Regions from separate parts of the Homo sapiens genome. Here all the other regions are reported to be linked to region 2. Evidence: microRNA targets listed by miRTarBase, many of them from high-throughput screens and not tested one by one. Region 2 holds a microRNA gene; each other region holds the end of a gene's coding sequence.

What was found. The annotated mature microRNA hsa-miR-7154-5p reads UUCAUGAACUGGGUCUAGCUUGG and lies in region 2 at 1,601-1,623, opposite strand. An mRNA with a match to its seed (bases 2 to 7 or 8) in the 3' UTR can be bound and repressed. Matches are read on the target gene's strand: a 7mer-m8 pairs with bases 2 to 8, a 7mer-A1 pairs with bases 2 to 7 and ends in A, and an 8mer does both.
Region 1: miRTarBase lists NBPF3 as a target of hsa-miR-7154-5p. Seed matches in the 3' UTR shown: 7mer-m8 at 1,657-1,663.
Region 3: miRTarBase lists C5orf22 as a target of hsa-miR-7154-5p. Seed matches in the 3' UTR shown: 7mer-A1 at 1,301-1,307.

The regions. Positions count from the first base shown.
Region 1 is chr1:21,482,787-21,485,786 of GRCh38, forward strand. It overlaps NBPF3 (NBPF member 3), which reads left to right. Exons shown (of 15, transcript NM_032264.6): 15 at 357-2,114. The coding sequence ends at 600. Among named protein-coding and RNA genes, the nearest start is that of ALPL, 25 kb to the right of the region's middle.
Region 2 is chr11:45,690,154-45,693,507 of GRCh38, forward strand. It overlaps MIR7154 (microRNA 7154), which reads right to left and starts at 1,623; the gene lies at 1,551-1,623.
Region 3 is chr5:31,552,376-31,555,375 of GRCh38, reverse strand. C5orf22 (chromosome 5 open reading frame 22) reads right to left here. Exons shown (of 9, transcript NM_018356.3): 9 at 323-2,603. The coding sequence ends at 2,474. Among named protein-coding and RNA genes, the nearest start is that of C5orf22, 22 kb to the right of the region's middle.

The DNA of each region.
Region 1 (3,000 bases), not on the chromosome of region 2:
CACTTGATGGAAAACTATTGAGCTCACTCTTCTCATGATCACTGTTTGCTGTGTGTCCTGAGGGCACTAACTCACAGTGTCCTTTTACTCCCTCATCAATGTGTCACCTGGCCAATTCACTGAGCTCACTTTCTCTCTCTCTCTGTCTCTCTCTCTCACTCTCTGTCTTTCTCTTTCATTGTTTTCTACTTGGCCCTGTTCTATCCCAACATAAAGGCAATAATTTTTTTACCTCATTAATGGAACTATCCTTTTCCTTTTTTGACCACTTCCTTATGTTACCCCTGAAATCTAGTTGGGGCTCTGTGGTGTCTGATTTTCCCTGGCTGCTTCTTTAGTTTTGTCTCCTTTTCCAGGCTCAACGAGGTGCTGATGGAAGCAGAAGAGCCTGAAGTCTTGCAGGACTCACTGGATAGATGTTATTCGACTACTTCAACTTACTTTCAACTACATGCCTCATTCCAGCAGTATAGAAGTGCCTTTTACTCATTTGAGGAACAGGACGTCAGCTTGGCCCTTGACGTGGACAATAGGTTTTTTACTTTGACAGTGATAAGGCACCACCTGGCCTTCCAGATGGGAGTCATATTCCCACACTAAGCAGCCCTTACTAAGCTGAGAGATGTCATTGCTGCAGGCAGGACGTATAGGCACATGTAGGTTTGAATGAAACTGTAGTTCCCTTTGGAAGCCCAGTCATAGGATGGGAAAGTGGGCATGGCTCTATTCCTATTCTCAGACCATGCCAGTGGCCACCTGTGCTCAGTCTGAAGACGTTGGACCCAAGTTAGGTGTGACACGTTCACACGACTATGTAGCACATGCCGGGAGTGATCTGCCAGACATTCTAATTTGAACCAGATATCTCTGGGTAGCTACAAAGTTCCTCAGGGGTTTCATTTTGCAGGCATGTCTCTGAGCTTCTATACCTGCTCAAGGTCAGTGTCATCTTTGTGTTTAGCTCATCCAAAGGTGTTACCCTGGTTTCATTGAACCTAACCCCATTCTTTGTATCTTCAGTGTTGGTTTGTTTTAGCTGATCCATCTGTAACACAGGAGGGATCCTTGGCTGAGGATTGTATTTCAGAACCACTGACTGCTCTTGACAGTTGTTAACCCACTAGGCTCCTTTGAGTAGAGAAGCCATAGTCCTTCAGCCTCCAATTGATATCAATACTTAGGAAGACCACAGCTAGACGGACAAACAGCATTGGGAGGCCTTAGTCCTGCTCCTTTCAATTCCATCCTGTAAAGAACAGGAGTCAGGAGCCGCTGGCAAGAGACAGCATGTCACCTGGGACTCTGCCAGTGCAGAATATGAACAATGCCATGTTCTTGCAGAAAATGCTTAGCCTGAGTTTCATAGGAGGTAATCACCAGACAACTGCAGAATGTAGAACACTGAGCAGGACAACTGACCTGTCTCCTTCACACAGTCCACGTCACCACGAATCACACAACAAAAAGGAGGAGAGATATTTTGGGTTCAGAAGAAGTAAATGATAATGTAGCTACATTTCTTTAGTTATTTTGAACCCCAAATATTTCCTCATCTTTTTGTTGTTGTCATTGATTTTGGTGACATGGACTTGTTTGTAGAGGACAGGTCAGCTGTCTGGCTCAATGGTCTACATTCTGAAGTTGTCTGAAAATGTCTTCATGATTAAATTCAGCCTAAACGTTTCATCAAGAACACTACAGAGTCGATACTGTGAGTTTCCAACCTCAGCCCATCTGTGGGCAGAGAAGGTCTAGTTTGTCCATCAGCATTATCATGATATCAGGACTGGTTACTTGGTTAAGGAGGGGTCTAGGAGATCTGTCCCTTTTAGAGACACCTTACTTATGATGAAGTATTTGGGAGAGTGGTTTTTCAAAGTAGAAATGTCCTGTATTCCAGTGATCATCCTCTAAACGTTTTATCATTTATTAATCATCCCTGCCTGTGTCTATTATTATATTCATATCTCTACGCTGGAAATTTGCTGCCTCAATGTTTACTGTGCCTTTGTTTTTGCTAGTGTGTGTTGTTGAAAAAAAAACATTCTCTGCCTGAGTTTTAATTTTTGTCCAAAGTTATTTTAATCTATACAATTAAAAACTTTTGCCTATCACTCTGGACTGTTGGATTGTTTTTTACATTCAGCGTTATAATCTTTTGTTATGCTGATTGGTTTTGGTGGGTACTGATGCGAATTAATAAAAACATTTTCATTTCCCTGTTTATTTTCTAATCTCTTCCACCTTGTAGGCTATGTTTACCATATGTAGCAGAATGCATGTACTCCATTTCTTGGTTCTAGATATTTATATTCTTTGTGAGAGTGTGTGTGTGTGTGTCTGCGTGTGCCTCTGGCATTTAGGAAGGGTTGTGTAGCTCATGTTTGATATTGACTAAAAATGTTTCATAGTTTTCCCCCCTTTGAACTAGACACACTTCTAATATTTGGTTTATACGTTTTAAATTATGACTTTCAACATCACATATTTCCATATGACAGTCAATTACATGATGTGTTTTCTTTTTCCTACCTCCTTTACCTGCCACTTCTCATAATCGTATTTGAACCTAAACATACACCAGTGACATTCTGTGGTTGTCATCTTGCCCACACCTTGGTTTTTGGTTTAGATCCACAATTAAATATATTAATGCTCATGAGCTGTTCAAAAGTGAATGTCACAGTCATCACTTGCTGAGTGGTACTCATCCTAACAGAGTCCTCATGAGGGAATCAGGTCTCGCTGAGTTTAGCATGTTTAATAATCTTCCTCACGGTCTTGATACATGGATCGCATTACTGGATATAAGGTGTTTGCCCAAAATGATTTTTCTTGTGTTTTTAGGAGCTATTGTCTTCCTTGCGGGACATACATGGTGTATGTTCTCGTTGTGGGATTCTATTTTGTTCTACCAGGACCTATAATTTCTGCCAGTTACTTCATTTGTTCTCTTCACCATGAGTCTCCAGCGGATGCTTCCTTTGTCCATGCCTCCCC
Region 2 (3,354 bases):
TAGCCTGTTTCTCTTCCTTATTTAAAGATGTTTTTACCCTTCTGGACATTCTACAAGTTACTTCCTCCTTCTTTTGTTCTCCTCTGTCTTTGCCTCTTTTAAAAAGTTCTAAGTTACTAACCAATCAAAACAAATATAAAATATAAAGTCCTGTTCCAGCCAATAAAAACCAGACACAGCAGTAAGGTGGACACGTCAGGTTATAAATGACCCTGTCTCCTTTGTTCAGTATACTCTCATGACAAAACTACTGACAAATATACCATTTCTACAAAAAATAAAAATGTCCTTACTAAAAAATTAAATGTATTTTCAAGTACTATTTCTTTATAACACCGAAAAACAAGTATTTCTAACATCACAAACCACACACTAGCCTGGATTTGTTTTTGCATCCCAAGCACTATTTCAGGTACCTTCAATTGCCATTGGTCACCTAGCTTTCAGAATTTATTTTCCAAAGCTAAGTCTGCCATGACAGGTGCTAAGGTATCCCTTTGAAATTCTTGGCTTTTCTAGCTTGGGGTAGTTAGACAGCCATCATGTTTCAATTCCTAGATTGCTTTTCAGGAAGTTTCTAACAGATCTCAGTTTGCATTTCTAGGTGGTCATTTTACAAGTTCAAACTCATATTTTTCATTGCTATTCCTTATACAGAGCTAAAGTGCTATGGGGGCTTTCTAGAAAAGTGACCTTTTAAAATGGAGTCTGGATCTCATTCTTAGCAGAAGCATCAAGGGAACACCTTCATAGCATTGCAAGGTCAGTGACTTAGGTCAGCATCAAACTCCCCACTTCCCATGCCCAGGCCTAACTTGGACTCACTCCCACCTATGGGACCCTTGCTCTTTTTCAGGAACTGGAAAGGAGGTACCCCTCAGATACAGGGCCACAGGCAGATAGATTTAACCTCTAGATTCATCCTATGCCTCATGAGGCTGAGGCAGGTCCCTCCACTGGGCCTCAGTTTTCCCTAAATGTGTAACAGAGTGGGGTTTGGGCCACATGATCTCTAGGTCCTCTTCTGGCTCTGTGCTTCTATGACTTGGATTAAGAGAGGCAGATGAACACCTCAATAGAGGAAGACAGCCCAATTTTTAAAAATCAGATTGACTTTTGCCATTCAGGTCCATTACCCCCTCCCTTTCCTATAGCTGCCAGCTGTTCAAACCCTCTAAACCCTAACCTCTTTAGGCAAACCAAATCTTGCCTAGATGGCTGCAGGGTCCTCTGAGACACCTAAACCCTGCGAACCTTGACCAACCCTACCCCACCCTGCCACCTAATTGAAAGAGCCTCAGGAGCTCCACTGCCTTCAGAACCTAATTTCTCAGGACAAAGACGTGCCCTTGAGGATGTGGCCTCTCCTCACCTTGTTGGGTGCACAGATACCAGCCTCCAAATATTCGCAATTCTCTTTTTGATCCCTCTCTCTCTCTCTCTCTCTCTCTCTCTCTCTCTCTATTGTCCTAACCCATGTTCCAGGTAAGAAAAAATTCTTCTCTATCCTAATGAGGGTGTTGCAGACACTCCACCTGTGACCCAGCCCCATCCCACAACTTGTCCTCCTATCTCCTCAGCTTGCTTCCCTACCAAGGCTCCAAGCTAGACCCAGTTCATGAAGGCAGAGAGGGTAGGTATCAGGCCGAAGTTGGTGGGTTCTTGCTCAAGGTTGGTATTTCAGAACTAAAATCTGCAAGTACATTTTTCCTTTTCTTTTTCTTCTTCAGACCCCTGATCAGGAGGTGAGATTCCTTACACTTGGCCATACAACAGGATGAAATCCTGCCATTTATGGTAACATAGATGATCCTGGAGGTCATTATGCTAAGTGATATAAGCAAGGCACAGAAAGACAAATACCACATGATCTCATTCCTATGTGGAATCTAAAAAACTTGACTTCATAGAAATGGGGAGTAGAATGATGGTTACCAGAGTAACCCTTAGGGGAAGTGGGAGAGAGGTATACGAAGAGAGATTGATCAACAAAGTATAAAGTTACAGTTAGGAAAAATAAGTTCTGGTGTTCTATTACACAGTATGGTGACTATAGCTAACAATAATGCATTGTATATTTCACGATAACTAGAAGAGAGGATTTTGAATATTCTCATCACAAATAAATTATAAATATTTACAGTGATGGATATGCTAATTACCCAATTTGATCATTATACTATGTATACATGCATTGAAACATCACACTGTACCCTATAAGTATGTACAATTATTATATGTCAATCATAAATAAAACTTTTTAAAAAGAAGAAGTTAAGATTCCTAGAGGAAACTTCACCTCACCCTTTCTACCCCTACCCAAGCCAGTAGCCAGAGCACCTCACAACCAAGTTCCCAAAACCCATCTCCAGAATGACACGTGGGGCCTTATCCTCTTCAGGAAGAACAAAATGAGCCCAGGCTTCCCCCTTAGGACCGCTATAATGTGTTCAAATGTTTTCCGTCGAAGAAACTAAGCTGCACAGAGGTCGAGACTTGCCAAGGTTATACTGCCAGTTAGCAGCCAAGACCAGACTTCAAACCCAAATCATCTGACTGTGAGGGTTCTTTCTTGGCATCCAACCCAGATTAGAGGAAGAGCTTATTTCTCTGGTTGCTGTGGGGGTGTACCCCACACTCAGGCTCCCGCCGGGATTGCCACAACTGTCCCTGCCGAGTCTGGCTGCCTCCAGGGATCTAAAACCAGGGACTTTGTTACCTTTTGTCCCTTGCTGTCCTCATAAGGTACTGATTGACTGATGGAGGCATGACTGGAAGACTGGCAGAAGCAGAAAGCAAAACTATGTCGCCCCCTGCCATGCGCCTGTACCTCTGTCTAGACTTCACAGAGGAAGGAGGAAGTCATCAACCCAGGCTACTCACCACTGCCTCTCACCCTTCCTCCCTCACGTATATTCCATTCAAAGACTGTGGATTTCCCCTAGGTCGACTTGAGAATTTTCTAGAGTTCCCAGTAAGCTGCTGAGGATGAATTGGGGGTTGGTGGAAAGGTCAGAGACAGACCTGAACAGCTCTCTTCCTAAGAGGCACAGGCAATCACTGGGCCTCGCCCGCCCCAGGTTGCCTGTTCTCTTCACCACCAATAAACTAGAGGGACCACGATCTCACAGAGTCTGTGAATAAAGTCATTCGGCAAAGGTCTGGTGGGCAGTCATCCTATACCAAGTACCAAGAAGATGCAGAGAAGTCTAATGCCTCCTGAACCCGCCCATCTCCTGTTTTGGCTATTGTCTGTTCACCCCAGTGCATGGGTATTGACAATCATTTCTTAAAGGAGTCTTCCTTCATCCAGTACTGTCCATGCTTTACAATATAAAACCCAAATCACCCCTC
Region 3 (3,000 bases), not on the chromosome of region 2:
GTAGCTGGGACTACGGGTGCTTGCCTACACGCCTGGAGAATTTTTTTTTTTTTTGTATTTTTGGTGGAGACGGGGTTTCACCGTGTTAACCAGTATGGTCTCGATCTCCTAACCTCGTGATCCGCCCACCTCGGTCTCCCAAAGTGCTGGGATTACAGGCGTGAGCCACCGCGCATGGCCAACTATAGGAAATGTTTCTAAAGAGATCTAAAATTGACAGTCAAAAGGTTATTATGAAAGGCTGGACTTAAATTTTTTCCCCGTAGATACTAGGAAATACACAACTTATTAAGTTAAAGTCTACGCTTACACTTAAGTCACATTTTTTAAAAAGCCACTAAAATCCCATGCTTTAATGATATTAGTACACAATTCAAAACACTGTACCACGGTATCCCCTCACTGGTACTCAGAACACAAATGAAACACATCTTGATAAAGTAAATACCTTCCTATTTGGAATGTGCAAGACATAATTTACTAAGTTGATTCTTTTCAACTATTAGGGACTGAATTTTATTCTCAAAGAGATGATCACAGAACATGAGAATTAAACAAACCTTCCTATAAAAGAAATGGATGCTTTTATTCAACCTGAGTTAAAACCACAATGAATCATATCAGAGTTCATGGGAATCATAATAAATGACTAGTAAACCACTCACAAAATCAAAGCTATCAACATACTAGGATCACACACATTAATTAGTGCTATAGTTCAAAACATACCCTTTAACTTATTTAGCACGCAAAATAATCATAAAAGTAATGTCTATAAGCTCTAACCAAAAATTTTAAAAATTAAAAATAGCACAATTCTACAATTCTGATTTTACCAAGAAAATAAACCTTTTTTGGCACATATTATCCTATGAAAATGGAAAGCTGAGTCAGGCTGCTCTGCTTTTCACAGCACAAATAAGCATTCATGCTATCAGACTTGGGAAATTAACTCGGTGACAAAAATTCACTGGAAAATAGAATCCTTGGAAAAATGGGGTCAGGTGCCATCCACTGTGAGGCAATGATAATGTGTGTCCTTCGTTATTAGCACAAAGTTAGGCAGCACACTATAATTTTAGCTACATGCAACTCTATAGGAACACATGTGGGTAAGGCCTGAAAGTTACAAGCAAGAGTGAAAAGAACTGCTGTGTTGGGACTGAGGAATGATGGGTGTTTGTTTTTCTTTAAATGTCATTTCACCTTTTAAAGGAAAATAAATCAAGTAGGTAGGTAAAAATTACTGAACTAAAGAGATACTAAAGATCAGAAGACTGGCCAATTGAGAAAATCAAGTTTCATGATTAAGAGTGACTCAGGAAGGATGTCTTAGTTATGAGGGGGGTGGTGGAAGACAGTTTATATCTTTGGGTATTTATGGCAGGTCAGAATTAAAGATTTAACTTTTTCCCTTACTCTTTACATAAAAAGCTGGTTTATCTGAAAAAAGTATCAATCTAGACTTGGCAATAAAGTGGCACTTAGGCACTATATTATTGATATCTACAATGACCTCCTGGATGCACAAGAGACCCTGAAGGGCTTTTTTGATCAGCAAAACAAAAACAGAAAAGCAAAAAACAGTTAATTTTTGTTTGGTCAAGTTTACTCAACCAGACCACCTTGATACCAACAATGCTGGAGAGCATTTGGCAAGAGCAGGGCCACAATGCCAAATTCCTTGGAAAGGTAGACTTCCTATGATACTTTCATGGATTGGCAAATTTGTGGGGTTTTTTTGGTAGTAGCTTTTGAGAATGTTAGTTTCTGGCTGGGGTAGTGACTTACATCTGTAATCCCAGCACTTCGGGAGGCGAAGGCAGGTGGATTGCTTGTGCCCAGGAGTTTGAGACCAGCCTGGGTAACATGGTGAGACCCCATCTCTATTTTTATAAAATTAAAAAAAAAAAAAAAGATAGAGAATGTTACTTTCCTATAAAGCCATGATACCCTAAGTACTAAGACATGTCTGTTGTTGTCCTTTCCTTCATAACATTTCTCATAACCCGTAATTTACTTCTCATCTGTCTCCCCTAAAAGGGCAGGGGCCTTGTCTATTCTGTTCATTACCATATACCCAGCACTTAATAATGTCTGGTACATGTAAGTGTTCAACAAATATTAGTTGAATGAATAAATGAAGTATGAATGAATCTCATACAGCTCAACAGACCTGGGGGAAAAGTGAAGACAAACAAACAAACAAACAAAAAAAAAAACAAAACCCTAAAAAATACTTAAGGAAGACAGATAAGCAACAGTTCTATCAGTTGGGGTTATGAGACTTGATGCCAAAAAATTTACCATCATTCACAACTGACAATGGTTGTTCAGAGATTCAAAATATCTGAAAGATTTCAACTGAAAGTTAATATAAAACAGTGTTCTCTGGAAGACTCATGTACAAATAAGTTAATTAAGGGCCTGTTACTAAACCAAGATACAACAGGAGCCTAATGTTTTGTTTGTTTCAAGATGGAGGAGACTCTGCTGCATACACTTGGAGGTCTAGATTTCCATAGAGGGCACGTAGCATATTGAGGACCTTTTCTTGAATAGTGTCAACTTGGTCAGAAGGACAGTAATCATCCAGACTTGACCTAGAACCAACAGAAAGAGAAAGAAGAAAAATACACATAGGATAAAATCATACTGTGAGGAAAAGCTGCATGTGTTCATTTCAATGTAAAACAGAAATTAAGGTGTGCTGAACTTTGGATTAATATCAATTGAAAGCTAGTGAAGGTTTACCCCATGTTAGTCACCTTACATAAATTATGTTCTTTAATTTTCACAGCAACTCTATGAAATAGGCACAATTACTATCCCTTTAAAGAAATCTGAAAGAGATTAACCTGTGCAAGGTGACATGCGGTGTGTGCCTTAATGCTTGATTGCTAGACCATTGTTTGCCTGAAAGTGAGATGTTGCTTGGGAATACAGGGGCTTATTATCTTAGCGATGGAACATCTTTTATTATGTGTGTGCTAGGGCTAG